Linked DNA regions of Homo sapiens. The protein of the gene in region 5 interacts with the protein of the main gene of each other region in a pairwise test. Each region holds a gene or a part of one and is shown on either strand. Other genes may lie near its edges. The genes, in order: SGSM2, NCOA5, HNRNPR, SERPINB5 and KHDRBS3.

Region 1 (5,962 bases), on a different chromosome or scaffold from region 5:
GATCTGTGGGCCTGAGAATAGGGGAGCCCGTAGAGCAGCCCCATTGGTGTCGACTGGCGAGATCCTTCCTCCCCGCGATGTTGCCTGTCACTGTACAGAACTGACTATGGCAGGCTTGTTCGGAGCACGGGAGGGTAGCTCTTTCTGGCATCACTCCTGCCTTTTGAACAGCAAGTTCTAAACTGTGACTGCCTGGCCCAACCAACACTGATAAGTTTCAATTTTAAGGACGCTTTATTAATTTTTCTTTAAAATTGCCTCTTTAGATAATGTGTATTCTTGTTACTTTACTAAATCCTTACCAACATTAACAGAAAATGTAAGTTGAAGTAAGTTAAATATAACTGGCTGGGTGTGATGGCTCATGCCTGTAATTCCAACACTTTGGGAGGCAGAGGTGGGAGGATTGCTTCAGTTCAAGAGTTTGAGACCAGCCTGGGTAACATGGCGAAACCCTGTCTTTACAAAAAATGCAAACCTTTGCCGCATGTGTTGGGGTGCGCCTGTAGTCCCAGCTTCTCGGGAGGCTGAGGTGGGGGGACCACCTGAGCCATGGAGGTTGAGGCTGCAGTGAGCCGTGATACCACCACTGTACTCTAGCCTGGGCCATAGAGTGAGACACCCTGCCTCAGAAATAAAATAAAAAAAAAGAAATAGAACAAACAAGGCACATTGTCATTTCCCACGTGCTTTGTTCTTAATCCCCTATCCAGGAACACATTCTCCCTCTCTCTGGCTTTGGGTTTTGTAAAAATCTGTCTGTGCCAGTGCCCAGCTGCTGAGCTCATGGACAGCAGTAGCTCCTCGCTGGCGTATTAGATTGCCACAGAACCGTGGCCTTACCCAGCACTTCATGCTTCCTGCCCAAAGTAGAAACTACTTTTAGCATTGCTTTCCCTACGTGGTGAAAACAGAGAGAGAAAAATCCCAAACAGTCTCTGTATGTGTCTCTTCTTTTCCTCGTGCCTTGTCCATGGTGGTGGACTGTATCTAGGAGGCAGAATGTTTGCTTTTCCTTCCTACATCTCCCCACCTTGCCTGAGGGCTAATGGAACTGACTAGGTGCTTGCTACAGAACGTTCCTGTCTTGTCCTGCTGAACACTCAGTACTGAAAATAAGGCAAAACTTGTTTTTCCTAAAACCTCTAGGCTTCTCTCCACCCAGCCACACCAAAACACTAAGGCCATTCTCCCGGTCTCATGACTTCAGGCGTTTCTAGAATGAGACTGAGTTCAAACTGGCCATTGAGCGTTCAGCCCCCTGGCTCCCCTACTTCCCTTCAGTAGCCACAGGAAGACCTGGGGCTGTTCCTTCAAGCAGGGCTGAAGACGTGTCTTCATGTTTGGCCAGAGGCTTGTTTCTCTCCGCCTGGCTGGCTGGGTCAGAAGCTGGCTTGGTGCCCCGTGGCCACAGTGTTGGAGGCTGTGGTGGGAGAGGGGGTGTGAAGAGTTTTGCATTCCAGCTCCCTTCTGGCCCGAGGAGGCGGTGGGCTGCGGGAAGGTGCTGGAGTGCAGGTGGAGCCGCCCTGTGTTCACCCCCCAGGTGTTTATCTCAGTGGATGATCTGGAACCCCCGGAGCCCCAGGACCCTGAAGATTCCAGACCAAAACCTGAGCAGGAAGCAGGACCCGGGACTCCGGGCACCGCCGTGGTGGAGCAGCAGCATTCCGTGGAGTTCGACTCTCCAGACTCAGGACTGCCCTCCTCTCGCAATTACTCCGTGGCCTCGGGCATCCAGTCAAGCCTAGATGAGGGGCAGAGCGTGGGCTTCGAAGAGGAGGACGGCGGTGGGGAGGAAGGCTCCAGTGGGCCCGGCCCTGCAGCTCACACTTTGAGGGAGCCCCAGGATCCCAGCCAGGAGAAGCCTCAGGCCGGAGAACTGGAGGCCGGAGAGGAGCTTGCGGCTGTGTGTGCGGCTGCCTACACTGTGCGTACATGCTCCCCAGGCTGTTCCCAGCCGCCCCAGAGGCCCTCCTGACATCCCAGAGCTGGGGAAGCGCTGGTGGGGTGGAAGGCGGGGCGCCCTGACTGCCCTGGAAGGGAGTTCTGAGCCCATTTCTCAGCATCCCCACAGGACTCGCTCTGGTCTCTGGGTTCCGTTTTGCTGCATTTCTTGGGGCGTCACCTCCTGCCCCCAGCCTGGGAAGGGCTGCCCGGTCTCATGCCTGAGGGCCCTCCACTCTTCCAGATAGAATTACTGGACACTGTGGCCTTAAACCTGCACCGCATAGACAAGGATGTGCAGAGGTGTGACCGCAACTACTGGTACTTCACGCCCCCCAACCTCGAGAGGCTCAGAGACGTCATGTGCAGGTGCCTTGTGGGGCGGGGCTCAGGGTGGGAGGCGGGACCCTGCCGCCAGTTACTCTGTGAAGATGAGGTCCGGAAGGTGCCCTGCTCCTCTCTCCTGCTCCTGAATCACACTTGGCTCCCCCTGCCTGGAACGCTTTTTTCCTGCACACCCCTCCCCCGCGCCTCTTCATTCTTAGGGGCCTACCAGACCTCCACTTCAGCCACACCTCTTCAGGAAGCTTTCCCTCATCCCCGCACCCCCGCCCCACATACCAAGCGTGACGGCCTTGGCTCTCCCTAAGTCGGAGTGCCTTGGGGGGGACCCGTGGGTTGTTCCCCGTTGTCTCCCTGTGGGGGGTGCACAGTACATGCCTTAGGGTCGTGGAAAGGCTGACTTCTGGGCGGCAGGTGGCTCTGGAGGACGTCTTCCCAGGGATCCCGAGGGAGGGAAGAATGGGGCACAGCCACAGTGACTCTCCCCCTGCCTTTCAGCTACGTGTGGGAGCACCTGGACGTGGGCTATGTGCAGGGCATGTGCGATCTGCTGGCGCCTCTCCTGGTCACCCTCGACAATGGTGAGGGATGGCGGGACATGGGACTGGGCTGCGTAAGCTGGAGAAAGGACGAGAGGGTGGCCAGGTCTGGAGGGGTGGGAATGGGAGCCGGCTCTGTCCCCTGCGTCTCCTGCCCTGCCAGCTTCACTCCTGTCTCCCCTCAGATCAGCTGGCCTACAGCTGCTTCAGCCACCTCATGAAGAGGATGAGCCAGAACTTCCCCAACGGGGGTGCCATGGACACCCACTTTGCCAACATGCGCTCCCTCATCCAGGTGAGGCCGGTTGCCACCCATGGGCATGGGAGCAGGCAGTGCTGGGCTGGTCCATCGTCCACATGGCTAGGGAGCATTCCACAAACATACTTGACATAGAAACTTAACTTCTTTCATTTTAAAAGACATGGTTTCAGCAGGGCAACGTGGCTCAGGCCTGTCATCCCAGCAATTTAGGAGGCCGAGGCAGGCGGATCACGAAGTCAGGAGTTTGAGACCAGCCTGGCCAACATCGTGAAACCCCATCTCTACTAAAAATACAAAAATTAGCCGGGCGTGGTGGCACACACCTGTAGTCCCAGCTACTCGGGAGGCTGAGGCAGGAGAATCACTTGAACCCGGGAGGTGGAGGTTGCAGTGAGCCGAGATCACACCACTGCACTCCAGCCTGGGTGACAGAGCGAGACTCTGTCTCAAAAAAAAAAAAAAAAACCATGGTTTCAGCGTTAGAAATTGAGGAGGAGTGTGTGTGTGTGTGAATGCTCGTGCCCATGAAAGTTCTGGCGAACAGTAGGGGTTGCTGATGACATCAGACACCCAGAAAATCCTATAACCCTAAAAATAATGCAGCTCAGAGAGATGGGTGATGGGAGGGGCAGCAGGAGCAACCCACCCTCCACAAGGAGATCCGAGGGGGAGAGAGTGCACCGCGCAGCACAGGGCAACAGACAGACCCACTGCCAGGTTGGGGATCGCCTGCATCCCTGGGCGTGAGCGGACGGTGAGTGGCGGCCAGAGGCAGCATCGGCTCAGGGCTCAGCCTCTCTCCCTTTTCCCACCCACATAAGATCCTGGACTCAGAGCTGTTTGAGCTGATGCATCAGAATGGAGACTACACCCACTTCTACTTCTGTTATCGCTGGTTCCTGCTGGATTTTAAGAGAGGTAAGAAGTGGGTTGGATCATGGGGCTGAGGTCAGGGACAGTGAGAGATCCCTCTTCCCCCAAGCCAACAGTTCTCAATCCTAACTGGACCTTGGAACCACCTGGGGAGCTTTAAAACCTGCCAGAACCCTGGCCCCACCCAGCCCAGACTCATGAACTGTGGCTGCCTGGGCCTATGGGTTCTTAAATGCTCGCTGACCAGACACAGTGGCTCACGCCTGTAAACCCAGCACTTTGGGAAGTCAAGGTGAGAGGATCGCTTGCACCCAGGATCTTGAGACTAGCCTGGGCAACATAGCGAGACCCTGTCTTTAATTTTTAAAAAAGAAAGAAAAAATGAGGCTGGGTGCGGTGGCTCATGCCTGTAATCCCAGCACTTTGGGAGGCCAAGGCAAGCAAATCACTTGAGGTCAGGGGTTTGAGGCCAGCCTGGCCAACATGGTGAAACTCCGTCTCTACTAAAAATACAAAAATCAGCCGGGCATGGTGGCGGGTGCCTGTAGTGGAGGCAAGGTTATGGTGAGCTGAGATTGTGCCACTGCACTCCAGCCTGGGCAACAGAGCCAGACTGTGTCTCAAAAAAAAAAAAAGAAAAGAAAAGAAAAAATTGAAAAGAAAACAAAATTTCCATAGGTGATTCCGAAGTGCCACTAGGGTTGACAGTTACAACTCTCATAGATCATAGTTTGGGGAACTTTTTTCAAACCAAAGCATTCCTGAGCACCAAGATGGGAGGCCTGTGACAGCTGCCCGGCTGAAGTGCAGGCAGAGTCTGCAGGAACCCAGTGTGCAGAAATTACCCAAGAAAAGGATGGGGCCTTGGTACGGGGTACAGAACCCCCATTCCTGAGCCAGGCTCTGTGTCATGGAGAGAATCCCACGACTTTGGCCCCTGAAGCTCTGATCCCTCACCTGGCTCCATTTAGAGGCCTGTGAGCAGCCAGTCCGGCCAGCATCAGCCCCAGCCCCAGCCTCAGCCTCAGCCTCAGCCCCAGCCTCAATCCCAGCCTCAGCCTCAATCCCAGCCTCAGCCCCAGATATGCGGCTAGGACGGGTGAGCAGCAGCCGCTTACTCTCCGCAGAACTGCTGTATGAGGATGTGTTTGCTGTGTGGGAGGTGATCTGGGCAGCCAGGCACATCTCATCGGAGCACTTTGTCCTGTTCATCGCCCTCGCCCTGGTGGAGGCCTACCGAGAGATCATCCGTGACAACAACATGGACTTCACTGACATCATCAAGTTTTTCAATGGTACGAGCTGGTCCAGCCATCCAGGCTGCCCTGAGCAGAGGTGTGGAGGCCCCCACCTCTGCCCCGCACACAGCTGGAGGGTTCTCAGGAATCCTGGGGGCCCTTCCCCAAAGGCCGGGATGTCAAGAATCTAGCAGAGCAGATGGAAACAGAGCAGGGTAGTCAGCCACCTCCTAGCCTGCTGCCCTTTCTCTGGGCCTCTCTACAGCTCTTCACGTTTCCCCCCAGAACGTGCTGAGCATCACGATGCCCAGGAGATCCTGCGGATTGCCCGGGACCTCGTCCACAAGGTGCAGATGCTCATAGAGAACAAGTGAGCTGGGGCCAGGAGGCAGCAGCCGTGCAGAGCCTGGGCTCCGGCAGGGAGAGGTGCAGGGGAGTCACCGCCCAGACCTCCCCAGCCACCAACCGACCCCACCTCTGTTCCTAACAAAGCGGTTGTGAGCCTGGATCCGACTCCCGGCAGTGCTGACCCTGCAGGGCAAGTCAGGGGCCAGGATGCCCTCGGATCAGGGCCGGGATGGGAGGGGTCAGCCTCAGGGAGCAGCTGCCTTGGGGGACACACCTACTCTGCTCCCCTCTCACACATCTGGGAGTAGCCCCACTGCCACCTGCAGCCGCAGCCTGGACTGCTGCCCACGAGTGAACCTGGGGCCCCACAGGATTAACAGGGGCTATAGCGGCCTGGGCCCTACTCAGCTGGGGTG
Region 2 (5,671 bases), on a different chromosome or scaffold from region 5:
ATTGCTGTGCGCTGTTAGCCAGGGTTCTTTCAGTTATAGGTGACAGAAAACTCAATTCAAATTGAGGCCAAAAGGGACATTTTTCATTTAAGCAAAAATTAACTGGGAAATTGAGGCACAGCCACATCCAGGATCAAACCATGTCATCAAAATTGGTCTCTGTGTTAGTCTCTAAGCACTGTTTTCCTCAGATTTGCCTTTGTTCTCAGGCAGGTTTTGTGCTTGAAGAGGCAGAATGGCACTGGCCCTGAACGTGTGTCTTCTTAGCTTAGCAAGCCAAGTGGAAAGAGAACTTCTCTTTCCCAGTGTTTCCACCTGAAGTTCTGCAGTTCTTTTTAGATTGACCTGACTCACTTTCCCATCCCTGAGCCTGTCACTTTGGCAGGGGTGCTGGGTGTTCTGATTGGCCAGGGCTAAGTCATGTTCCCATCCCAAGAGCTAGAGGTGGGATTAGCCCTGTGGAACCATGCAGACTGAGAGTGGAAGAGGGTGTAGCCGCTGGTCAAGCAGAGTAGTATATACTCCCTTCATGGGACAACCCAAATGCCCAATACTTTGGGAGACACGCCTCTGCATTTGTCAGCCAAGAACCAAGTCTTTGTGAAGTACCATGGCCTTGCAGAACTGTTACATGACCATGTTACCAAGCTAGGGCTTATAGCATTGTTTCACTGCATCCCTGTTTTACATTTTCTCCTTGAAGAGGCAGAGCAGAGAAGCAGAAAGGAGTATAGCAGCTTGCAGGCTTGGCAGTAGCTATGTTCCCTTTCCCTAGGTGGTACTAAGTAAATAACTTCATGTATTTTCTAGCAGTTTGGGGTTAAAGAGCTAATTTCAAGGCAGTGACTAGGGAAATAGGTGTTGAGACACCAAGCAGTAGGCAGAGTTCACAGGCTCTTGGCTGTCTTGTTCAGTGATAGATGCTGCTTTTAACTCTAGAGAGCTTTTTTTGGACACATGATAATAGCTGTTATTTTCTGAGCACCTACTTTATGTACTACCCCATACTAGGTGCCTTACATAAATTATTTTTAATCTTCACAGTAATCATAAAAAATGAGCATTCAGCAAATCTTTTATACGTATGGTGGATGGCGGGTATTGGGGCTGTATAGCCTCATTCCACTGGTGGAGCTTACACCCAATGGGGCAGGTGACAAAAGCATACAGGTGATGAGTCCTATGAGAAGAGAATGTCAGAGATCTAATTTAGATTGGAGGGAAGGTCAAAAAAATGACGTATGAACTGAGCCATGTTACTCCTGTTTTATTAGTAAAGAAACTGATGTTTGTAAGAGGTAAATGGACTTGCTTAAGCTTCACAACTTTGCAAATAAATTTTAAGGGCTGGGATCCAAACCCATGTTTCTAGCGTTAAACCCATGATCTTCCCACTGTGTTGTGCAGCCTACCCAAAAAGAGATAAGTGCCACAAGTCTTAGGGAGCAGGATGGTCTTAAGGAAGGACCACAGGGCTAGAGAATCAAGAGAAGGACCTGGGTATCATACTGTGCTACTGGCAACTTCTGACGTGATCTCAAGCAAGTCACAACCGTTCTGAGCCAGGGTAGAGAGAGAGTATTGGTCTAGATACTTGGATCCTGAATACGGTACTGGGGTAGACTAAGGTTTGAGTTATCAGTAGGAACACACACAACTGGCTTGAGACACACGATGCAGATTTGGAGTTGGTCGCTCACCTGGATCTTATTTATTTTTACAGAGACTATGCTGAGTCTGTGGGGCGGAAGGTGCGAGACCTGGGCATGGTAGTGGACTTGATCTTCCTTAACACAGAAGTGTCACTGTCACAAGCCTTGGAGGATGTTAGCAGGGGAGGTTCTCCTTTTGCTATTGTCATCACCCAGCAACACCAGATTCACCGCTCCTGCACAGTCAACATCATGTTTGGAACCCCGCAAGGTACAGAGTCAGAATACCGGAGGTAGTCACTAGTCCATTATTAGTCCTTTATGCCTTACTCAGAAGAAGCAGGTTTTGGGCAAATGACTCTTATATCTCAGTTCATATATGGTAGGGCCCCTCTCTTAAGTACCATGGAAGAGTCTTGCATAGTCACTTACTTATCTGATAGTTTCTTAGTGGATCTCTGTTACACTATACTTAGCCACTAGGTATATACAGTGGTGTGCTGGCACACGTGTAACAACAAGTTCCAGTGTGGGGGGAGGGCGTTTATAGCATTTGCTGATCTCCATGGTGTAAATACTCCCACCATGTTTCAGTTCAAGCCACCAACCTGAAGTCACTGAAGGGAGAGTTGGAAAGAAATGTACACAGTTGGCTCTTGCCACTGAGATCTGGCTCCAGCACACCTCTGCCATGTACTCCACTGAATGTGACAAAATCCTTGCTTCTGCCAGCTTTCTAATGGAGGACAGAGAATATAACAGGCATTTAGGGTCCTTTTTGTAAGTGTGCTGGAGAAGTAACCAGAGGGGCTAAGAGGCCGTGACCCTGTAGAGGCCCAGGCCCAGTTCTCGAAGTCCTCCTCAGAAGTAGCTTTTAATGCATTGAGCCCAGAGGATTAAGAGTCCGCCAGCTGATACCCTGCTCCTCACTCTTACAGCACAGACTTAACCCTTTTCCCACTATACGCAGGATCTCTCTTTGCCTCACCCATTACCCTCATAACCATACAATTACATAAGGATCTCCAGTGGGTCATTTGTCTGAGGAATAGTCCTCAAGATGTGTGAGGACAAAAGTTCTAAGGAGTCCTCTCACTACCCAGTAAACCATGTTGCCCATGGGTGAGGAGAGGAGGTTATTTAGGGTCACAGTTTGATCTTAATCTATGACTTTTGAACTGATGAATTAAAAAATGGTAGGCCAGCTCTGTCCTGAGGAGCACAGTGGAGAGCCCTGCTTTCCAGAGGGGCCTGTTGGCCTCCTGCTGCTGGTCTAGAGGCTGTTGGGCCTGCCTCCCATGGCTGTTCCCCACGTGGTCTGTTTGAATCTGTGGGAGGATGTCATGTTTCTTTGGTTTTTACTACAAGTCTGTGATCTAGGAATTCCCCCAAAGAACCAGCTGTATATAAAGGTGCATCTCCTCACCAAAAGTGTTCGTTCACTTCCCTTCCTGGCCTTCATCTCTCCCCCCACACCACCCCACTCTCAATCTCAAGGCTTTTTGTCACCAAAATGATTTTCTTGCTGGTATGAGGTTAGGAAAGACTTGACAGAGTGCAGCAGGTGGGCACTTAAATATGTCATGGAAGAAAATAACTCATGTCATTTCCTCCTACAGAGCATCGCAACATGCCCCAAGCAGATGCCATGGTGCTGGTGGCCAGAAATTATGAGCGTTACAAGAATGAGTGCCGGGAGAAGGAACGTGAGGAGATTGCCAGACAGGCAGCCAAGATGGCCGATGAAGCCATCCTGCAGGAAAGAGAGAGAGGAGGCCCTGAGGAGGGAGTGCGTGGGGGCCACCCTCCAGCCATCCAGAGCCTCATCAACCTGCTGGCAGACAACAGGTACCTCACTGCTGAAGAGACTGACAAGATCATCAACTACCTGCGAGAGCGGAAGGAGCGGCTGATGAGGAGCAGCACCGACTCTCTGCCTGGTGAGCTACGTGGCAGGGCCGAGGTGAAGTTCTGACTCTGCATTTCTCTAATCCCCAGGCTCTGTTGGGAGGGTGTCAGGCCCAGGGCTCTTTGGAGTGGGTAAGGGAACTAAGTCCATCCCTTGGGTTCTCCCGTGGGCCACCCATGCTGATATAATGTTAATAATAACTTTATATTTGGGTACTGAATGCTGATCCCTATAGTTAATGTGGTGGATTGACTAGTATTGCTGGCTCCGTGGTAGCCAGGATGGATGCCCTTTTGTTTTTTAGCAGTTCTCTAGGGGAACTAGCCTATTGTTTTCTGTAAACAGCACATATCATGAAGCGGCCTCTTTGGGAAATTGATGTTATCGTCTGTGTACTGTATGATTGATGTGACTCAGTGATTGTTGTTCTTCCTTTGGCTGCTAGGCCTCCTGCCCTTGGGGGGTACTTTGAACCAGATACCTCCCTCTTCTGTCTTCCAGGCCCGATTTCCCGCCAACCACTCGGGGCGACCTCGGGTGCCTCGCTGAAGACACAGCCAAGCTCCCAACCGCTCCAGAGCGGCCAAGTGCTCCCCTCTGCTACACCCACTCCATCTGCACCCCCCACCTCCCAGCAAGAGCTTCAGGCCAAAATCCTCAGCCTCTTCAATAGTGGCACAGTGACGGCCAATAGCAGCTCTGCATCCCCCTCGGTTGCTGCCGGAAACACCCCAAACCAGAATTTTTCCACAGCAGCAAACAGCCAGCCTCAACAAAGATCACAGGCTTCTGGCAATCAGCCTCCAAGCATTTTGGGACAGGGAGGATCTGCTCAGAACATGGGCCCCAGACCTGGGGCTCCTTCCCAAGGGCTTTTTGGCCAGCCTTCCAGTCGCCTGGCACCTGCTAGCAACATGACTAGCCAGAGGCCTGTGTCTTCCACAGGTATCAACTTTGACAATCCAAGTGTACAGAAGGCTCTGGATACCCTGATCCAGAGTGGCCCTGCTCTCTCCCACCTGGTTAGCCAGACCACAGCACAGATGGGGCAGCCACAGGCCCCCATGGGATCTTACCAGAGGCATTACTGAAGCTAAATCTTTCAACTCTCCCCAGTCCCCTCATCCCCTGGCCTCCTCCCACTTACTTGTTCTAAATAGAGCTGTTTGGAGGATGTTCTCTGCGCTCCCAGGCCGGCATCGAGTGTCATCAATTTCTACCACCTGCTCTCTCTTCTGCCCAAGGCTGTGTTGCTTATTCCTTACAAAGTTTATACTGCATTTGGGGCTGTATCTTTTTTTGTTTTTTGTTTTGTAGAAAATAAATATCTCCGGGGGCAGTACAGGTGTCTGGGCTTGTATTTGATGGGGTTTCTCCGGTCCCTGTTTCTACTGGATTTGGAGCCAGGCCCAGCTAGCCAAGTTTGGAATGGCATTTGTCATGTCAGTAGCCACCACCTTTGTTCATTGTGAACCTACCAAGGCTTTCCAGCTTCATACACATTGACCAGAGCTCAAGCTCCTGCCTGCAACTCCTGCCTAGAGTTGAAGAAAAGCAAACTGGCCTTGGCAGGCACAGTGTCATCATACCCTCACCCCATATGTTTGGGGTCTGCTTGAGGATTCATAAATCAGCCACTCTGGATTGTTGAGGAATGGCCATGGCAGCCACAGAAAAAAGAATTTTTCTCTCTGAGCCAAGGTTGTTTTTTGTTTTTTTCTCTTTTCTTTTTTGTTTTCATTTCATTGGAAGATCTCCAATGGACTGAACAGCTCCAGTCAGCAGCAGTTACCACAAACTGTGAATCTGGGCCCCACCACTCTTCCCTGTTAACCAGTTCTGTCAGCATCCCCCTCTCCAGCAGCACTTCCATGAAGTTGGTTCTGAGACTCTGGCCGTGAACACCCGTTTCTTCAGTGATTTGTTTTGGGCTTTTGGCTCAAAACCCCAGGCTCTTGTTTTTGTCTAGACTCTTATTCTGTTTCCTGAGCAGCAGGAGGTAGGGACCACTTTGATGTCAGACTTCTGGTAGCTGGACATGTTCTCGAGATGGGTGGCTGTTCGCGACTTTTGTACCAGAGTGAAATTGTTAGAAGGAGGGTTTCTGGCT
Region 3 (6,435 bases), on a different chromosome or scaffold from region 5:
GACTCATGTTGAGGCTGCTTCACTTATATTTTGCTCATCGTCAAGTGGATTTAGGTCTGCCTAATCGCTAGATGTGTGGTGGATGCTTTTGGCTTATATATCTGGCTGTTGGTTTAACAGAGGGTTTGGTGGACGTTATTCTCTATCATCAACCCGATGACAAAAAGAAGAATCGGGGGTTCTGCTTCCTTGAATATGAGGATCACAAGTCAGCAGCACAAGCCAGACGCCGGCTGATGAGTGGAAAAGTAAAAGTGTGGGGAAATGTAGTTACAGTTGAATGGGCTGACCCTGTGGAAGAACCAGATCCAGAAGTCATGGCTAAGGTAAATACAGTTGCTTGGAATGGGCATAGGGTCATCATTTAAATTTTGTACTCAGAATAAAGCTCAAATATTTTGAGTTTTATGATAAATAGAAATTGTAGCTTTAGACTTCAACTGTTTGGCAAGGAGCGGCTTTAACACTAAAGTTAACAGCCTGTCTTGGTATCCAGGAATTTCCATTAACAATCCCTTTTCCTGCAGATTAAATGTGCAAAAGGAACTGAAATGAAATTCCTTCAATTAAGTAGTCCCATACACACTGGGTGTTTGTTTAGTGCTAGGCACTGTGAGGGATAGAGGTTTTTTTTTTTTTTAAAAGTCCTGAGTAAAGAGAGAAGTAATGTTTTGGAGATTATAAGTTATAATCTTCATTGACTATATTATGACTTTATTACTTGGCCATGAATTATGTTTTATTTAGATTTATAGCTAATTTTTCTTTTTTTAAGCTTTTTTTGTAGTTTTTATTTTTAAAAATATTTTATTTATTATTATTATTTTTTGAGACAGAGTCTTGCTGTGTTGCCCAGGCTGGAGTGCAGTGGTACGATCTCGGCTCACTGCAACCTCCACCTCCCAGGTTCAAGCGATTCTCCTTCCTCAGCCTCCCAAGTAGCTGGGACTACAGGCGCCTGCCACCATGCCCGGCTAAATTTTGTATTTTTAGTAGAGACAGCATTTCACCATATTGCAGGCTGGTCTCGAACTCCTAAGCTCATGATCTACCCGCCTTGGCCTCCCAAAGTGCTGGGATTAAGGCATGAGCCACCGTGCCCCGCCTCTTGTTTTTAAATGATCAGATTCCCTTAGTGTATTGTCCCCATGAAGAAAGGCAAAAGATTGTCATGTTTGCTCTTATTTGTTAGTGGCAAAATATGCATGGCAAGTCCTGTAAAGGGCCCTCAATTCCCTCCTGATTCCTGTACTTGCGTTGCCAGGATCTTAATAGTGGTGCCTTGAGTACTGGTTCTTAAGTTTTCCTTTGGGCGACTCCTGGGACACATCAGAGTTGCATTTCTTTTTTTTTGAGATGGAGTCTTGCTTTGTCCCAGGCTGGAGTGCAGTGGCGCGATCTCCACTCACGGCAAGCTCTGCCTCCTGGGTTCACGCCATTCTCCTGCCTCAGCCTCCCAAGTAGCTGGGACTACAGGTGCCCGCCACCACAGCTGGCTAATTTTTTGTATTTTTAGTAGAGACGGGGTTTCACCATGTTAGCCAGGGTGGTGTCCATCTCCTGACCCTGTGAACCGCCCGCCTCGGCCTCCCAAAGTGCTGGGGTTACAGGTGTGAGCCACTGCGCCCGGCCTCAGAGTTGCATTTCTGCTGCTTGCAATGAGCTCTTGAGCATTTTAGTTGTCTCTTCCCTTCACAGGGAGGCAGCAACTCTGAATGGCCATGAGTTAATGGTTGGATTCTTCTTGATAAGTCAGAAGTCAAGGTTTTTATTCCAGAATTTGAGGAGGCAAACCCTCGTTCTAAGTAGTTTGGAGGAGAACTCTGGTTTATACTTGTATAAAGTCTGGGTTGGCAGTGACATCTTTGGGTTAATCAGATAAGTTCTATTCAGAATGAACCAGAGAGGCTCTCAGAAGTGCTACTCAGTATCTTTTATCTCATATTCCTTGAGTAGATGGGTGTCTAGGAAAGGGATAGAGAATTTAAATAGCTCTGAGTTTTTATTTTGATTTTTTACTAGCTTGATTTTAATTCCTATTGTTTCTTCTCCTAATACAACTATGACTTTGGGTAAACTACTGAACATGAATGTCATCTATTTTATTGAGCCTGGATCAATCTCTAAGATCCACCACAACTTTGAATCTACCTGTAGTAACTAAGTATAGCCTGTATTACTTTTTCTGTAAAAATATTTTAAAATAGTATTATAGATGTATTATAATAGAGGAATAAAATATTATAAAAGAGGAATAAAATCCCATGAAAACCAAAAGTATAGCTTGTAATTTGCTTACCAGCCACTTCTCACATAACCTTTAGTAACTGCTCAGATGGAAGTTCATCCTAATCTTTTTTTAGGGTTAGAAAACTTCAAGATTTCATTCTGGTAACTCCTTTTTCCTAGATCTAAAACAGGTTTCAGAATGAAAAGGAGGTCTCTATAAACTTAGGATTAAATATTATGGAGCCCTTTATTGTTTCTTTTTTTTAAAAGATGGGGTCTCATGTTGCCCAGGCTGGAGTGCAGTAGCTGCCCACATGTGCAGTCATAGCACACTGCAGCCTTGAACTCCTGGGCTTAAGCGTCCCTCCTGCTTCAGCCTCCCGGGTGCTTGCAACCCCATCCAGCTCCTTTATTGTTTCCTAATTGAAAAGAAAAGTTTATCCATTTGAGTAAAGCTTCTGTTATTCACACTATCAATTTACAATTCACTGAAGATTTTTTTTGCCAAGTTGGGTCAGTTTTACAATGTACCATAACCTAAAAGCCTAAATATATGTCTCTTAAAGGGACCCTTTTTCCTGTTGAACATTTTAAACACAATTTCAGTAAGTAATTTTCACATAGTATGTTATCGTTTCATCATAGAAAAGTCCATGTTGAATTTTTTTTAAAAAGCAACTAAACCAGTGGGAGTCTGTGTAACATAGAGGCTGGACCTTAGTATGACAAATTGAGAATAATAAAGGGGATGGAGCGTTTGTGGAAAATGTTAGTTTTTTTCCTCCTTAAATTAGTATCTTCTTATTAGATAGCCCTTTATCTGAAGCAACAATTTGTTCAATATGTTAGTTTTTTATTTGGATAGGTACTATGTTTTCTTAGTTCAAAAGTTATATAGAAAAGTATAGACAAAGAAATTTCCTTTCTACCCCTATCCCTGTGTCTACCAAATCCCCTTTGTCTCCTATAAGGCATCCAGTTTTAATAGTTGCTGGTTTCCTTTTAGTATTTCCTTCGGCAAATATGGATATACTTCCTTAATTCTTAGATGAGTGGTAGTAATGTTGGTAGCCTACCATATCCACTGATCTACCTTTTGTTTATTCACCATCCTGTTTCATCAGCTCTGAGGAAATACATCATTACTATATGTACTACTAAATAGTTAAAAAACACTGCCAACTAAACTATGGCACAGTACTTGCTTATCACATTGACTGTAAGTTGTCCTATCCTACAACTCATAGAGCTCCTCTTCATTTTTTGGGTTTTTGTTTTTTTTTTTTTTTTTTTTTTTTTTGAGACGGAGCCTTGCTCTGTCACCCAGGCTGGAGTGCAGTGGTGTAATCTTGGCTCACTGCAGCCTCTGCCTCCCGGGTTCAAGTGATTCTCCTGCCTCAGCTTCCCGAGTAGCTGGGGTTATAGGTGCCTCCTACCACGCCCGGCTAATTTTTGTATTTTTAGTAGAGACAGGGTTTCACCATGCTGGCCAGGCTGGTCTTGAACTCCCAACCTCAGGTGATCTGCCCACCTCGGCCTCCCAAAGTGCTGGGATTACAGGCGTGAGCCACCGCGCCCAGCCCTCTTCTTCATTTTTTATGACTACATAGTAGTCTATTCTGTGGAGGTACTATAGTGTATTTAACCAGCTGGATATTGTTTCTAATCTTTTGCTCTTACAGTGCTGGAAGGAATAAGCTTATGTTAGTTGATACAAGTGGAGATATATCTGTAGGATAGATTCTTAGGGGTAGAATTGTGGGCCAAAGGGTAGATATATCTGTAATTGTTAAGATACTGCCATATTCCTTTCTGTAGGAGATACACTATTTTACATTCCTACCAGCAAAATACAAGAGAATTATTTTCCTCATTCTTGACAAAATAGTGTATAATCAAACTTTTGAATTTTGCCAGCCTGATAACAAATGTCTCAGTGCCATTAATGATTAATGATTTGCTTCTCTTACTATGAATGGTTTGAACTTTAAATATATTTTAAGAGCCATATGTGTTTCTGTGTATGAACCATGTATTCAGGAATTTTGCCTATTTTTCTATTCAGTTGTTGAGCTTTTTGTTATTTTCTGGTGCTCTGATATAAAAGAGAGATTAGCTGTTTGTGATACATGTTGCAAATTTTTCATCCATATTTATTGTCTTTGCTTATAGTATTTTTTTGCCATATAGAAGTCATTTATTTTTAGTAGTTGAGTATAACATTCTTATGGCTCCTAGATTTTAAGTCATAAGGTCATCCCCACTCCAGTGTTATATAAAGGAATCATTCTTGTTCTAAAATTTCACAGTCCTCCCTCCACCCTTTTATTATTTAAATTTTCAATCTATTTGGAGTTTATCCTTGTGTATAGTGTAAGGCATGGACCAGCTTTTCTCCTTTTTTTCTAATTTAACACTACCTGATTTAATGATTTAAGCATTATAGTTTGTTTATATTTGGTAGGGCCAGCCTCTAAATTTCACTCTTTTTTTTCCTGGTTATTCTTGCTTATTTATTTTTTCATATGAACTTTTGAAAGTTACTCAGTTTTAGAGGAAAGAAACAGAAAAACTTGTTTTGAAAGGGACTTTTTGTTGATTAACTTGGTAATAATAATTATGTGTTGGTTCCTTGAAGGTTCTACTCAGTGTTAGGTGCTTTAATGACAACATAGGAGAAGGCAGGAACCAATAATTTTTGTAAATTGGTGACTGATATCAGTGTCATTTTCCTAGCAATTTCTCTTACTACCTGTAACAACACTTTTAGCACTTAATGTTTTAGAGGAGAAAAGCTATGCTATGAAGACAGGAAGAAACACTTTTCAGGTAAAATTAAGTAGCCAATGACGGTTTTGTTTATTTGTTGCTTACTAGGTAAAAGTTTTGTTTGTGAGAAACTTGGCTACTACGGTGACAGAAGAAATATTGGAAAAGTCATTTTCTGAATTTGGAAAACTCGAAAGAGTAAAGAAGTTGAAAGATTATGCATTTGTTCATTTTGAAGACAGAGGAGCAGCTGTTAAGGTAGGAATTTTGAAATTTTGGTTCTTGATATTTGAATTTTGTTTTTGAAACTTGCCAAACACAAAGTAACTTTAAAAACTGAAACAATATTGGTTGTCAGCTTTTGCTGAACTCTTTCTATTTAATCTCTGTAAAGTGGTAATAGTATGTAACAGATAAGACTCCATATTTCAAAGCCAGGTTATTACTGAGTTTGTGATCTTAGGCAAGTTATTTTTAATCTCTGTATTGTTTTGTAAGATTCGATAGCATGATGCCTTGGAAGTATTACAAGGTATAAAAATTAGCTGCTGTAAACACTGAATAGGTAATGAATGCATTATAACTACTTAGTTGACCTCAGTTTGTGTACCTATGAAGGAAACTGAGTGGTGTACATGACTCATACAGTATACCATGTTTAATTGAGTAGATAGATTTTGAGGGTATGATTAGTTTTACCTTTATTTAATCATTTTAGAGTTAAAATAGCATTCACTATGTTTTACTGATTTCGGTAATTGTTAGAGATATCACTTGTGTATAATAGTTGATTTAGTCTTTGATGATAATGAAAAGTTTGAAGAAAGTATTTTCATATGGTATCTGGAACACAAAACCTGCTTTCTATCGACAATGGTTTAGGACTATCTTTAATGGGTGAAATTTTCAGTTTCTTTTTTTTATTCATCTCTCCTTCCTTGGGGGGGTGGGAGCAAGACAAAACACTACTAAAATCTTATTTATGTTATTAGGAAGATAGATCCAGAATGCTTAGTGACACAGGCATGGTTCTTTTTCTGCATGTTTGGTCGGTGGGATACTGCCATCTCTAATCTGAGCATTTTTTGGTTTTGTTTTTTGCCCAGGCTACTGCTTTTAAAACAGGCTTTATAGAATCCCTGATTGGTTTATAATTAATTGGCTTGCTCATTGATGGTAGCTAATTAATGAGGCAGTATTGTTCATAAAATTCATAACTTGTCCAAGATCACAAACTCAGTAATAATCTGGCTTTGAAGTATGGAGTCTTATCTGTTATGCTGTTATACTCTTATCCGTTCATTTGTGGCTTCTGAAATTTCACTGGTATAGAATGCAGATAACTAATAATTTTATGCTGTCTAAATATTCCTCCTGACTCGACTGGTTTCAAATAACTGGTTGTCCTGATTGAAAATATTTATAGGATGGTTTGCC
Region 4 (6,435 bases), on a different chromosome or scaffold from region 5:
GGTGTGATGTCACCTGTAGGCCCTTGCCCCTGCCCTGAGGGGAGAAGGAGTAAGGTTGTGGGCTTTAAAGAAAAGTGAGAGGCCCACCTGACTTCAGGGGGCCTCGTGGTATATTTGCAATGGGAACTGGCCTGAGCGCATGGCTGTACTTATCAGGGACATATGGAGAAGGAGGAAGCCCATGGAAATGACCAGTGAGCATGAACAGAGTCAATAAAACATTATTTTTGGATAATGAACTCGCTTTTTCAGACTCTGAGATATAATCGATTTAAGTCCATCCTACACACAAGCCATATATCCCATAAAAGGGAGAATTCTGAAGAAATGTTTAAAGACCAGGAGTCCTCTCCTCCATCTTATTCTCGTCTTTGCATTCTGAATTTGTGTCCAGGTATAAGGTGCAAATTGCAATCCTATTCATCATGCCTTTGACTCTTGACACACGTTTGGGTACTGGCCAAAGGGAGTCCTCTATCTTAAGCAGTGGAGCTTACTTTCTAATGCCAGGGTGCATGTCCTACCTGAAGACCTTCAATGTCACATTCGGCCCTTGTGTCTGTGTGTGTGCGCCTGAGGCTTTGGGGGAACACTTCGAGTTTAATCCCTGTACTGCTCACCCCGGGGTAGTAATATCAATTCATTTCCCTTAGAAACATGCTGTCCTGGCTTAGGCAGAACCTCAGGAGTTCATGTAGTTCAGCTCTGCTCCCAGAAAGGGAAGCCCTGACTGCCTGAATTTACCTAATTGTCTTTGGAGTCGATCAGTAACTACCAGACTAAATAGGTAGGTAGACCTTTATTAGAACAGTGAAGCTTTTTAAATCTGAGGACCCTGTTACACTCTTAAAAATTACCGAGGACCCCAAAGAACTGTTTCTTTAAAAAAAATGTAGATTATATCTATCACTATTTACCAAACTAGAAATGAAAACCAGACACATTTTGAAATGTTCATTTACTAATTTATTAAAATAATATAATAATTAAATACTAATATGAATAATATATATATTAAAAAACATTTTCTAAAGTGAAAAAATGTAATGAGAAGAGTGATATTGTTTTTCATTTTTGCAAATCTCCTTAATATTTGGCTTAATAGAAGGGATGTCATATAGCCTCTGGAAAACTCCGCTGTCTATTAGAGATTGAGAATGATAATGTCTTAGTATTATCATGAGAATAGTTTTAACCTCATGGACCTCCTGAAAGGGTGTTAGGGACTGCCAGGAGTCAAGACACAACACTTTGGAAGTTGCTGTGTTAAAATTAAAGAGCTCTGAGATGTGACAAGATGCCTAGTTGCTGCTATATCCACTTTACCAGGCTACATATTTTGAAACTGTTCCCTCTTTTCTTTAACTCCCATATTACTTATTATACCACTCACATGTCTTGGGCAGCTCTGTATTCTAGTTATTTGTCTGCATATCTGCCCAAAGAGACTATGAGCTTAGAGAAGGAGGAGGTCCACTGATCCTTGTAACACTCTGGGTAGTGTCTTACACACAGATGCGTATTATAAACGCAAACAATAACCGCTGCTGTTTATTAAGTATTGTTATGTGCTGGGTGTCCTGCAAAGGCATTAGTTACTTTAAGGGTTTTCTAGCACTTCTCACAAAGCACCACAAACCAGGCAGCTTAAAGCAACAGAAGCTTTATTCACCCACAGGCTTGGAGGCCAGTACTTTGAAATGACGATGTCGGCAGGGTCATGCTGTCTCAAAAGGCTCCAGGGGAGAATGTTCCATGACTTTCTCTTGGTTTCTGGTGTTGCCAGCAGTTCTTAGCATTCTTTGGCTTGTGGAAGCATCCCTCCAATCTCTGCCTCCATTGCCATACGGCATGCCCTTCACACAGGTGAAGACATTTGTGTCTTCACATCTTCCCTCTGTGTATGTCTGTTTCTGTGTCTCTCCTCTTATTCCTTTAAGGACACCAGTCATATCGGATTAGGGCTCACCTAACTCCAATGTAACTTCATCTTAACTAATTATATATTAGTTAAGAAATAGGACATACCCTGTTTCCACGTAAGGTCACATTCACAGGTAATGGGGATTAGGACTTAACATATCTTTTTGGGGGACACAATTCAACCCATTACACTTACTAAATATTAAACTGAACAATGCAAAACTGCTGCAATTCGACTGTTTTTGTTTTATAAAAGTTTTAACTTTGTAGTTTAACTGAAATCCTAATGGAAACAATATGTGATAAATAAAACCAACTGATGTTGATTAGTGCTGTCAACTTTTCTGACATATGCTGGAGAAGAGATGTGACCACTGGGCTCCCGACAATGGCCACTGTGGCTGAGCAGGCCCAAGACTGCAGAGTCTAGGCAGAGCTGGACACACAGAGGACCTCACATGCCTTCAGACATTTGCCTGGAAGTTTCTTCACAACTGATCTTACTTTTGAATTTACAGAAAGTTCCTTGTTTCTTCTGAGATCAATTACTTTGTTTAAATAGAATTCTTATAGTGTTGGCAGAATGCAGTTGAGAAGACGTTAAAGATGCTTTAGAAACTAACTGCTCCCTTGTCCTTGCTTCCAGGCCCGCAATGGATGCCCTGCAACTAGCAAATTCGGCTTTTGCCGTTGATCTGTTCAAACAACTATGTGAAAAGGAGCCACTGGGCAATGTCCTCTTCTCTCCAATCTGTCTCTCCACCTCTCTGTCACTTGCTCAAGTGGGTGCTAAAGGTGACACTGCAAATGAAATTGGACAGGTAAGCCCCAAAACCTTGTTTCTACTTTAAGTGGGAATACAGTTATTAGAACCCATAGGCAGTGCCTACGGAAAAAAGGAATGTAGACTTTGTGGCCAGAATTGGTCAAGATTCAGAACTGTGCCATTCCAGGACTCTCTTAATCTTTTTTTTTTTTTTTTTTTTTTGTGAGACAGGGTCCCACTCTGTCACCCATGCTGGAGTGCAGTGGTGCGATGTTGGCTCACTGCAGCCTCCAGGTTCAAGCGATTGTTGTGCCTCAGCCTGCCGAGTAGCTGGGATGACAGGCGCGTGCCACAACGCCAGGCAAATTTTTGTATTTTTAGTAGAGACAGGGTTTCACCATGTGGCCAGGCTGGTCTCGAACTCCTGACTTCAGGTGATCCGCCTGCCTCGGCCTCCCAAAATGCTGGGATTACAGGCATCTTAATTTATTTTTAAATGTGAAAGCTCGCTTGTAGGTAATGCAACTCACATCTGGGACAGGCACCAGGCTGTGATGGAGAACCTGGAGATCTGCTGGGTAATCACAGCTTTTTCATTCTGACTTATAATATTTTCAATTTACAATGGTTTTATTGAGATGTAACCTCATCATAAATCAAGCAGCATCTGTATCGTTTTAGGGTTTCTTTCTGGCTATGGTTGATTATCTAGCTTTGTAAAGTTCTTAGACCTTCAAATGAGACAATTTTCCTGATTGTTCCGTTTTAAGTCCTCATGTACTTTTACATAATAGGTGAATGTTCTTCTAATTCTATTTCATTATTACTCTTATGCTAATCATTCTAGGTTCAATAGAATTTCTTTTCTATTAGCTCATAAGCATTTAAAAAGGCAACACCTTCTTGTATTCATATGTGTCCAGAAAGTATGGCCCATAAGAGTTATTTAGGTAAGGATGAAGAATTTACACTTGGGACTTGAAGCAGCTTCACTCCTGTGAAGAGGAGATGTATCTTGACATCAAGCCACATCTCTGAACTGCGCAACTCCACTATCCCTACCCAATCTCCCATTCCTCATTTCTCATCTACCATTAGAGAAAGGCCAGCGAAAGAGAACTTCCGGGTAGTGGGTCTGTTCCTCAGTAATTCCTCAAGCTCTTCTCAGTATATGCAACTGGTTCCCCAGCAGTAGTTACCTGGGCTCTTAAATTTTCTGGTCTCCTTCATCCATCTTTAGGCATGAGAGTTATGCACTGTCTGGGACCAGCATTTGACCCTGCAATGCTGAGGCTATGTAATTCATTGGGACAATGTGCCGGTTTGGCAGCGTTCGTTATCTGGGTTGTGGAATCACAGCATGGCCATTATGAGTTATGGAGCGAGGAGGGTGTCATCTTATGCTGACATTACATGTTGTGGTGTTGCAAGGCAGAAAAGATGCTGGACTATTGGTTGGAACAATAAAAAAAAAAAAGGAAAAAAATACAATGATTTAAGCCCTCCAAATGATAGTATCCTGGTTTTAAATGGCTTACAATATTATTACAAGAATAATTAACAGTTTGAATCCATATAATATTTTACGTGTTTTACATATAAGTAATCCTCATTAACAACTCAGGAAAGCAGGTATTTTCAGCCCATTTTACGGAGAGGAAAGGAGGCTCTGAAGAGTTGGAGAAGATTCTCTGAAGAGTTGGAGAAGAGGTGGTGAAGGCTGGGATTCACAGGCAGGGCCATCTGACTCTAGCCAGCCCAGGGCAGCCCACCATTTATTGTAGCTGCCCATCAGAAATGACACATCTATTTACCTGGCATTTGCTAAAGCACCCAGAGGGACTAGACAGACTCTGGCTAGAGGCACTTGTCCTGAAATCTGATTCCTGCCTGATGATGGTGTCTCTTGTATCAATCTCTCTCTCTGGTCTTTGAATTGGATAGAAATTATAACCCAGCTTCATCGTTCTCCAAGTTTGGAAATCCTTCTGTGTGAGTATTAAGGGCATCACTTTGAAGAAAGGACAAATGTTCTCGATGGTTGATTTGGAAGAGTACCTTTATGGTAGTGTTTCTCAGTGGGGACAATTTGTCCTCCCCTTCCCACTCTGGGATAATCTGGCAATGTCTGGAGACATTCTGGGTTCTCACAAATAGGAGGAGGATGCCACTGGCATCTAGTAGGTCAGCGATGCTGCTAAGCATCCTGCAGTGCCCAGGACAGCCCCACAAAGACTCATCCAGCCTGAATGTCAATAGTGCTGAGGTTGAGGAGCCTTACTTTACGGGAACTAGGCAGGAGGAGTCTGTATGCCCAAGGACGTTGGTCATTATCACGTGTCCACTTCAGTACAGCACTACTCAGAGGCAATGCTTTTTGGGTAACGGATTTTTCTCTTAACAGGTTCTTCATTTTGAAAATGTCAAAGATGTACCCTTTGGATTTCAAACAGTAACATCGGATGTAAACAAACTTAGTTCCTTTTACTCACTGAAACTAATCAAGCGGCTCTACGTAGACAAATCTCTGAATCTTTCTACAGTAAGTTGTTTAAAGCAAGTAGCAAGACTTAACTTTTTACAAGGAGTGGCATTTTCATGCTGTTAGACCTACAACTTTTTTTCAGTGAAATTCCTTTCTAGGATGTTCACTTGTGATTTGAGGCTTTAAATAAATAAATCCTAGTGGAGAGGTTGAGTATAGTGGGAATCAATTGCAGTCACATCTTCTAACTCAAAATACAGAGAAGCTTATGGGCTTTCCTTTTCTCTCTCAAATAAATCTTACCCTTTCTTTTACCTTCCTCTGAGAGAATGGAGAACAGAGTAATTAACTCTCTAATAAATGTAGCTCCATAGACAATGAGCTGTCTTACAGAGTGTAAGACAGCTAATGATTTAAACTTCTTTCTCCTTAAAGAGCAGGGCATATGGCCTGGGACAATGTTTTAAGCTCTCCACCTCATTTTTTATGCACACATTCTTCTGATGTTTCTCAAAATCAGTAAGAAAAATAATAACTATGAATTCACAATTTTCATCAGTCACAAATTAGTTTTGTTGGCTGGGCTGGTCAGATGGGGATCTCCACAGGCAGCTCTGGTTATATAAGTTTAGCCATTGCTCTAAGGAATCATACAAACACCACTACGGTACCCATTGTTGTAATATTTAAAAATCTGTATTTGAAACACACAGACAATATTCTAGACTACATGAAGTTTCCCTCTGTACTTCAGTAACACAGAGTTGATTTAGTTCCTGTTTGGATGGTCAGAATTTCAAGGTTTCCAAATCGAAAAGCTAGACTACCAGCTTTTAAATATTTTACCATGATTTTGCAACTTTCTGCAGTAGGTATTTTTGTGGTTAAGATCTTTTGAGGACATGGGTTACTAGATATTGTGAGTATATTTTTTGTTGCTTAAAGATACATACACACAACCATTTTTCTTCCAACAATCATCTGAAGAATTTAAAAAAAAAAACTGAGATGTGAGTTGAAGCCTGAGCATACAACATTTCTAGAAGCTCCCTAAATGATCATTAAAGAGACAATTAACACATTTTTATTGCTGGCAGTGAGGACAATGGAGGCCCTCCTTCATCTGGCTGAGGCTTTCTAATGTTTTCAGGTGAGATTGGTTCTGTCAGTCAATGGTGACAGTGAGTCCCAAGGTTGATTTGCAATTAACTGAAGCTAAGTTAATTGGCTAAGGCTGAAGCTGCTCTGAAGAAATTCAAGA
Region 5 (6,435 bases):
TGAGCTGAGATTGAGCCACTGCACTCTAACCTGGGTGAAAGAGCAAGACTCTGTCTCCCAAAAAAATAAATAAATTAAAAAAAAAAAAGATACTACTAGTATCCCATCTGCTGTATTATAATCAGATAGTCACTGCCTGAATTCTTGAATATTGATTTCAGTTGATCCTTTTTACTAGTTTTAGTTTTCAGAAGTTATCAGTTAATATGTTTATTTCTAAAGAGATTCCCATTACTTATTATTTTAATCTCATCCATTTAGATTTTCAAAGTGTTCACTATTAAAATCTAATGTGAATATAATTTTTCTGCATTTATTTGCTACATTTATGAAATTATGGGAGTCATTATTGATGTATATTAGTTGGTTACATAGCATAATAATCATGACAGTGCTCCGGTCTGTTGAGCTTTCAGCTTGTGCCAAACTTCATGCTGGATGTTTTGCCTGCATCATTTATACTATACAATAATAGAATAAATGATAGTGATATAATAATTATCATTACTATATTTATCATTTACTGAGCGCTTATTATGTGCAAGGCTTCATCCTAAAGACGTTTTGTTTGTTAACTCCTTTATTACTATAACAGCCTTATGAGATAAGTACTGTACTATTATTTTCCCCACTTAAAAATCACCCCTTTAAGATGAGGGTAATGTAATCTGCCCAAGTCATACAGTTAATGTTGAATTAGGGGTTTAATGCAGAATTTCAACATCTGTGTTTTTCTCCAAATAACACATTGCCTGTCATCATTAATCTGTAGAGTAGTTTGGTAATAACTCCCCTCTCTGTGGGATTGTACCCTGGCTACAGCTATGATAAGAAATCCTCTCTGTCCAGCTTAAGTTTGTGATAGAAATAATAATGCTTGAATAATAATGAACAATTATAATCTTTCATTAACATCATTATTTTGATACTCTATTAGAAAAGGATAAGTGTTTGTTTCAATAATTTGTGCTTTCAGGGATGAATTGCTGTACATAGAATGCAATTTTTAAAACTTGAGCAATGAGAGAGATTCAGATCAGATGGTTGAAATGTTCTGATTAGAACAATGAAGAGTTGGCGTAAGATAATGTTTTGTATAGTCAAAACAAATTTCAAAGGAAATTTATAGAATATTATGGCAGCTTATATTTACATATATTCCCTTATATTTTTTCCTTTCATTCAGTTTCTGGCCTACTTCTATTAATGTGATGGAAGCTAGCATGTATTGGTGCCTATTATATGTTAGGCAGTGTACTAGGTAGTATATACACTGTCTCCTTTCGCCAGCATTTATATAAAGCTGTGCCTTGTATTCTCAGTAGTTCTGCATTAATATACATGTGCTACCAATAAACAGATTTTGCAAATTAAGTATTGGATTACATACAGTCTGTCTAAACTCACATGGCTAGTGACTGGCATAGCTGAGATGAAATTATAGGTGACTAAATCCCATGCCCATTTCCCGCTCTGTGTATTAGTCTTTCTTTTCTTTGTAAGAGTTCAAATTAGTCAAGTAACAGAAGTTGAATCCTTCAAGGGTGAAGTCAAGGGCTATGTGCCTCTAGCATTTATTTTATTATTGGCCTCTTGCTTAATTGTGAAATTAAAAGGTGGTATTGCCAGGAATTCCTGGGGTTCTCTTGGTTATGGGATAGCCTTTTTGAGAGACTAGAAAGATTTCTTATCTTTTGGAAATTAGCCTCAGATTCCTGTTAATCTTAATCTGTCTGATACTAACATTGGAAACAGAGACTAATGGAAGACCCAGATTCTGAAATCAGGACCTAAAATTGAAGGTTAGTTAGGAAAAGGCAGTGGAGCAAAATCAGTAGTTCCTTAACGATCTGTTTTTTTCTCCTCCTAATTTTCGTCCTGCATTTCCTTATGGAAACAAACAAAGATTAAAAACTTTGTCATAATTATGTAAAATAACGTAATAAAGTCTTTCATTTTGTTTTATTCACTGTTTTATTCTCAGATAGAATATAGTGCTTGGTATGTAGAAATGTTTTTTGAATGAATATGCGAACGAGCAAATTGACATAGCAATGAATGAATGTTTAATCATTCATTCAACGAATCTTTGTTGAACATCTGTATACCAAGCACTTCTCTAGACATGGAAAATGCATCACTAAGCAAAGCAGTCACAGTGTCTGCTCCATGGTAATCACTTTTTACTAAGAGAAGATAGAAAATAGACATGTTTTTAAAAATAAGTTATTTCAGATAGTGATAAGTGCCTTGTACCAGCATCACAGAGACGCACACAGCCAGTGTAGAAGTGAGCACGTGAGCTCAGCCAGGTTGAGAAGCACAAAAGAAGTGTGGGCAGTGGCTGCGGAGGGTTGAGCAAAGGAGACTGGAGAAGGTGAAGACACCCTAGCAGCGGAAGTGAGCAGATGATGGGGCTCCTACAAGTCAGCGTCTGGAGTGGGACATTATTCCAGCAGCAGTAGGAAGCCTTTGAGTGTGTGTAAAAGCCTGGGAATATCAGGATCACATTTATAGCTTAAACCTTCTTTTTTAGAGTAGTGTCTACTGTGACAACCGCTTGCCAGATGGATTGTTTTTATTTTGGGGGTTAGTTTTTATTTATTTATTTATTTATCTTTCATTTCTTATAATGACACGTTTTTAAATGTGATTTCTTTTTTCCTTTTTCCAGGAAGAAGAGTTGAGGAAAAGTGGAGAAGCGAAGTACTTCCATCTCAATGATGATCTCCATGTTCTCATTGAAGTGTTTGCCCCACCTGCAGAAGCTTATGCCAGGATGGGACATGCTTTGGAAGAAATCAAAAAGTTCCTCATCCCTGTTAGTACCATTTTTCTTGATAGTTAACTTGTACTTTAAAGTCTTTGCTTTAATCCTTGATACTTCTTGTCTGTAACTGTTATTTGCATAGCTCCTTTTCTGCTGTAAAGCTGTATGGACATCACCTCAAGTAGACCTTACATTGTCCTTGTAAATTACTGGGCATTATTCCTTATGTATATATGAGGTGTTAGAATTTCAGGAAGATTTAATAATATGGCCAAGGTTACATGGCTAAAAAACTTGCATAGCACAATCACTAGTTCAGGTTTTGAAACGCTTTTCCTACGATTTTATGTGACACTGTACAACTTTTTTGTTCTCCAACACAAAACCATTAGTGCCTCTGTGTGCCATGCACAGTGCTTGGTGTTGGCATGCAGACTTGAATAAAAGCAGTCCCTGCCCTCATTTAGTATAATATAATACGTAATTTAGAGGAAAAGAGAAACATCAACAGATGATTTCAGTACAACATGATAAATATAACAGACATAACCATAATGAGCCCAGAGGGGATGGGCTATTTAGCTAGCTTCTGCCAAGTATTTTGGATGTTTTGTTAAAAATTGACTGTCTGTTTTAACCCTTTCAGACACCTTCACATTGCTAAGGATGTGACAATTTAAAGGGAATACATCTCTACCTCTGTTACGAAAGTTGATTTAAGTCTTTTGTGTGATTTGTATGCTCTTGATAAAAGGACTTATTATGTCATTTGCATGCTCTTGATAAAAAGAATCGTAAAGCATCAACACTTTGGCTCTGCAGACAATTTATTTTAGAGAAGCTGACACATCTGCCAAGTAGTTCTCTGGATAAGACTGTCTTTGGTTATCCCAGGTTAGTTTGGTGGATTGACTTACATACTACAGCACATGTACTGTGATTATATTATCTGTGAGGAAAACAATTATTATATTTATAGGGAAAGGATATTTAAATCACTTTTGCCTTTAAAAAGCCAGGACATAGAATTGCATTAAGTATGTAATAACCTGGGAACTGAAATGGCTAGTATTTTCTTTAGTTCCCATGAGCAAATATGACAATCTATTTCTTCTTTTAGTTTAAAAACAAAATTTCTAAGGGCTTACTATGTGGTAGGCAGATGTGAACTAATAAAATACATGATCCCTCATGGAGTTTAATGGCAAAGAGTCAGATATGAGTCAGTTTTTCATATAAATGACTACAAAATTGAAACTATGGCGAGACCACAGCTAAGGAGAGGAGTAAGTTTTGGTGATCATGCAGTGTGGACCAGGCAGTGCAGATCTAGCCAGGTGAAACAGATTCTCTTTTCCAAAGATGGCTGCAGTAGCACCATTTATCCCATGACCCTTACGATCCTTCCCCAGAGGTAGACTCTAATTTACCTCACACAGAATCTGGACTGGCCAAAAAAGTCTTTGCCTAATGAAGGTCACCAGGATTTTCTACTGTTTTATTTTAAAAATTTTTCAGTATTCTTTCACTTAAAATACATTTTGAGTTAATTTGTATATTTGAGGTTAGTCTCTAAATTTATTTTTTTCTAGATGGATATCAGTTGTCCTAGCACCATATGTTGAAAAGACAATCATTTCCTCATTCAGTACCTTAGTACCATTGTTGAAAATTGACTAAACATAAATGTAAAGGTTTATTTCTGCATTCTCAAATTCTTTTTCATTGATTTGTATGCCTACTCTTAATGCCAGTAGCATGCTCTTAATTACTTTAGCCTTAAGTAAATCTGGAAATCTAGGTTGTGTAAATTGTCCACCTTTGTTCTTTTTCAAACATTTTTTGGCTTTTCTGGCTTCTTAGCATTTTCATATGTGTTTTAGGATCAGCTTCTTAATTTCTATTAAAAAAAAGCTGGCTAGGATTTGATAGATATTATATTGAATCTATAGATCAGTTTGGGGATAATTTTCATCTTAACAATTTTGAGTTTTCCAATCCAGGAACATGAAATGTTTCTTCACTTTTAAAAAAGATATTTTAAAATTTTTCTCAACAGTGTTTTATAGTGTTCAGGGTGTCAGCCTTTTCCTTTCCTTTTGCAAAATTGATTTGTAAATATTGTATACTTTTTGATACTACTGTGAGTGCAATTTTTAAAATTTCATTTTCAGATGATTACTAGTGTATAGAAATGCAATTGAGTTTTGTATATTGATTTTGTATCTTGTGATCTTGCCAAACGTGTTTATTAGTTCCAGTGTGGTGTTTTTTTAATAGAATCACTACAATGATTAAGTGGAATCCTAATTAGTGGAATACAGGAGCATGTCATCTGTGAATAAAGACAACTTAACTAGTTCTTTTCCAATATGGATGCCTTTAATTTTTTTAATGTAATGTTGTTATTCTATTCTATTCCATTCCACTCCATTCCGTTCCTTATGACACTGACTAGAACCGTGAATGCAGTGTTGTTTCTAAAATTGGAGGGGAAAGCATTCAGTCTTTCACCATTGGCTATAGGTTTTTTTTATTGCTACCCTTTGTCATGTTGAAGAAGTTCTCTTATATTTCTAAAGGATGAGAGTTTTTATCATGAATAAATGTATAAACATGGGTATTGAATTTTGCAAATCTTTTTCCTCCTGAGATGATTGTGTGGTTTTATTCTCCTTTATTTTGTGAATAATAGTGTATTACATTAGTTGATTTCAGATGTGAAGCCACATTTGCATTCCGAGGATAATTCCCACTTGGTCATGGCATGTAGTCTTCTTTATGTGTTGCTAGATATGGTTTACTAATAGTTTGTTAAGGATTTTTACATCTGTAATTATGAAGGATATTGGTTTGTCGCACAGTATTTTTCTGGAGTCTTTTATATTAACTTATACTATTTTGGGTGCCCTTCATTTCTTCCTGTGGATAGAGCTGCCATATGGTATTATTTCTTTTCAGCCTGAAGGTTTTTCTTTAGACTTTCCTGTAACCTAGGTCTGCTAGCAAAAAGTCTTTTGTTTTTCTGGGAATGTCTTTATTTTACCTACATCCTAAAAAACAGGTTATATAATTATTGATTGATCGTTTTTGTTTTTTGTTTCTCCAGCACTTTGAATATGCTACTCTGCTACCTTCTGACCTCTGTTATTTTTGATGAGAAGAGTCATTAATCATTTTGCTGTTCTCCTGTGTATAATCTGTTGTTTTTCTCTTGCTGCTGTCAAGATTTTTTCTGCCTCTGGTTGTCAGCAATTTGGGTGTGATGTATGTTTATCCTATTTGTTGGCTAAGCTTTGTGCATCTGTAGGTTTATGTTTTTCATTAAATGTGGAAAGTTTTCAGCTATTTAAACTTTTTCTGTCTTTCTACCCCCCACCACACCCCCTAATTCCAGTTACGTGTATGTTGATACACATGCTGGTGTCTCATGGATTTCTTACATTCAGGGTTTTTCATCCGTTTTTCTCCATGTACCTCAGACTGGATAATTTTAATGGACTAGTCTTCAAGTTAACTACTTCTGCCAGCTCATAGCTGTTATTGAACTCCTCTAGTGAATTTTTCATTGTTGGCAATACGCTTTTTAAATTTTCTTTTGTTGCAATTCCAACATCTGGGCCCTCTCCAAGACAGCCTCTTTGTACTGCTTTTCTCCCCCTGAG

The links.
Region 1: the proteins of KHDRBS3 (region 5) and SGSM2 interact in a two-hybrid assay, tested with the Homo sapiens proteins (one large-scale study listed by BioGRID and IntAct).
Region 2: the proteins of KHDRBS3 (region 5) and NCOA5 interact in a two-hybrid assay, tested with the Homo sapiens proteins (one large-scale study listed by BioGRID).
Region 3: the proteins of KHDRBS3 (region 5) and HNRNPR interact in a two-hybrid assay, tested with the Homo sapiens proteins (one large-scale study listed by BioGRID).
Region 4: the proteins of KHDRBS3 (region 5) and SERPINB5 interact in a two-hybrid assay, tested with the Homo sapiens proteins (one study listed by BioGRID).

Annotation. Positions count from the first base shown.
Region 1 is NC_000017.11:2,373,949-2,379,910, forward strand, and holds part of SGSM2 (small G protein signaling modulator 2), read left to right. Parts: intron 1-1,543; coding exon 1,544-1,927; intron 1,928-2,188; coding exon 2,189-2,313; intron 2,314-2,784; coding exon 2,785-2,867; intron 2,868-3,010; coding exon 3,011-3,120; intron 3,121-3,908; coding exon 3,909-4,005; intron 4,006-5,087; coding exon 5,088-5,255; intron 5,256-5,463; coding exon of another isoform or gene 5,464-5,483; coding exon 5,484-5,572; 3' UTR 5,573-5,962.
Region 2 is NC_000020.11:46,061,281-46,066,951, reverse strand, and holds part of NCOA5 (nuclear receptor coactivator 5), read left to right. Parts: intron 1-1,723; coding exon 1,724-1,923; intron 1,924-3,271; coding exon 3,272-3,592; coding exon of another isoform or gene 3,593-3,615; intron 3,616-4,062; coding exon 4,063-4,652; 3' UTR 4,653-5,671. UniProt on the Homo sapiens protein: Nuclear receptor coregulator that can have both coactivator and corepressor functions.
Region 3 is NC_000001.11:23,312,374-23,318,808, reverse strand, and holds part of HNRNPR (heterogeneous nuclear ribonucleoprotein R), read left to right. Parts: intron 1-111; coding exon of another isoform or gene 112-120; coding exon 121-326; intron 327-5,106; coding exon 5,107-5,256; intron 5,257-6,435. UniProt on the Homo sapiens protein: Component of ribonucleosomes, which are complexes of at least 20 other different heterogeneous nuclear ribonucleoproteins (hnRNP). hnRNP play an important role in processing of precursor mRNA in the nucleus.
Region 4 is NC_000018.10:63,481,853-63,488,287, forward strand, and holds part of SERPINB5 (serpin B5), read left to right. Parts: intron 1-2,569; 5' UTR 2,570-2,576; coding exon 2,577-2,744; intron 2,745-5,093; coding exon 5,094-5,231; intron 5,232-6,435. UniProt on the Homo sapiens protein: Tumor suppressor. It blocks the growth, invasion, and metastatic properties of mammary tumors.
Region 5 is NC_000008.11:135,546,080-135,552,514, forward strand, and holds part of KHDRBS3 (KH domain-containing, RNA-binding, signal transduction-associated protein 3), read left to right. Parts: intron 1-2,674; coding exon 2,675-2,821; intron 2,822-6,435. UniProt on the Homo sapiens protein: RNA-binding protein that plays a role in the regulation of alternative splicing and influences mRNA splice site selection and exon inclusion. Binds preferentially to the 5'-[AU]UAAA-3' motif in vitro.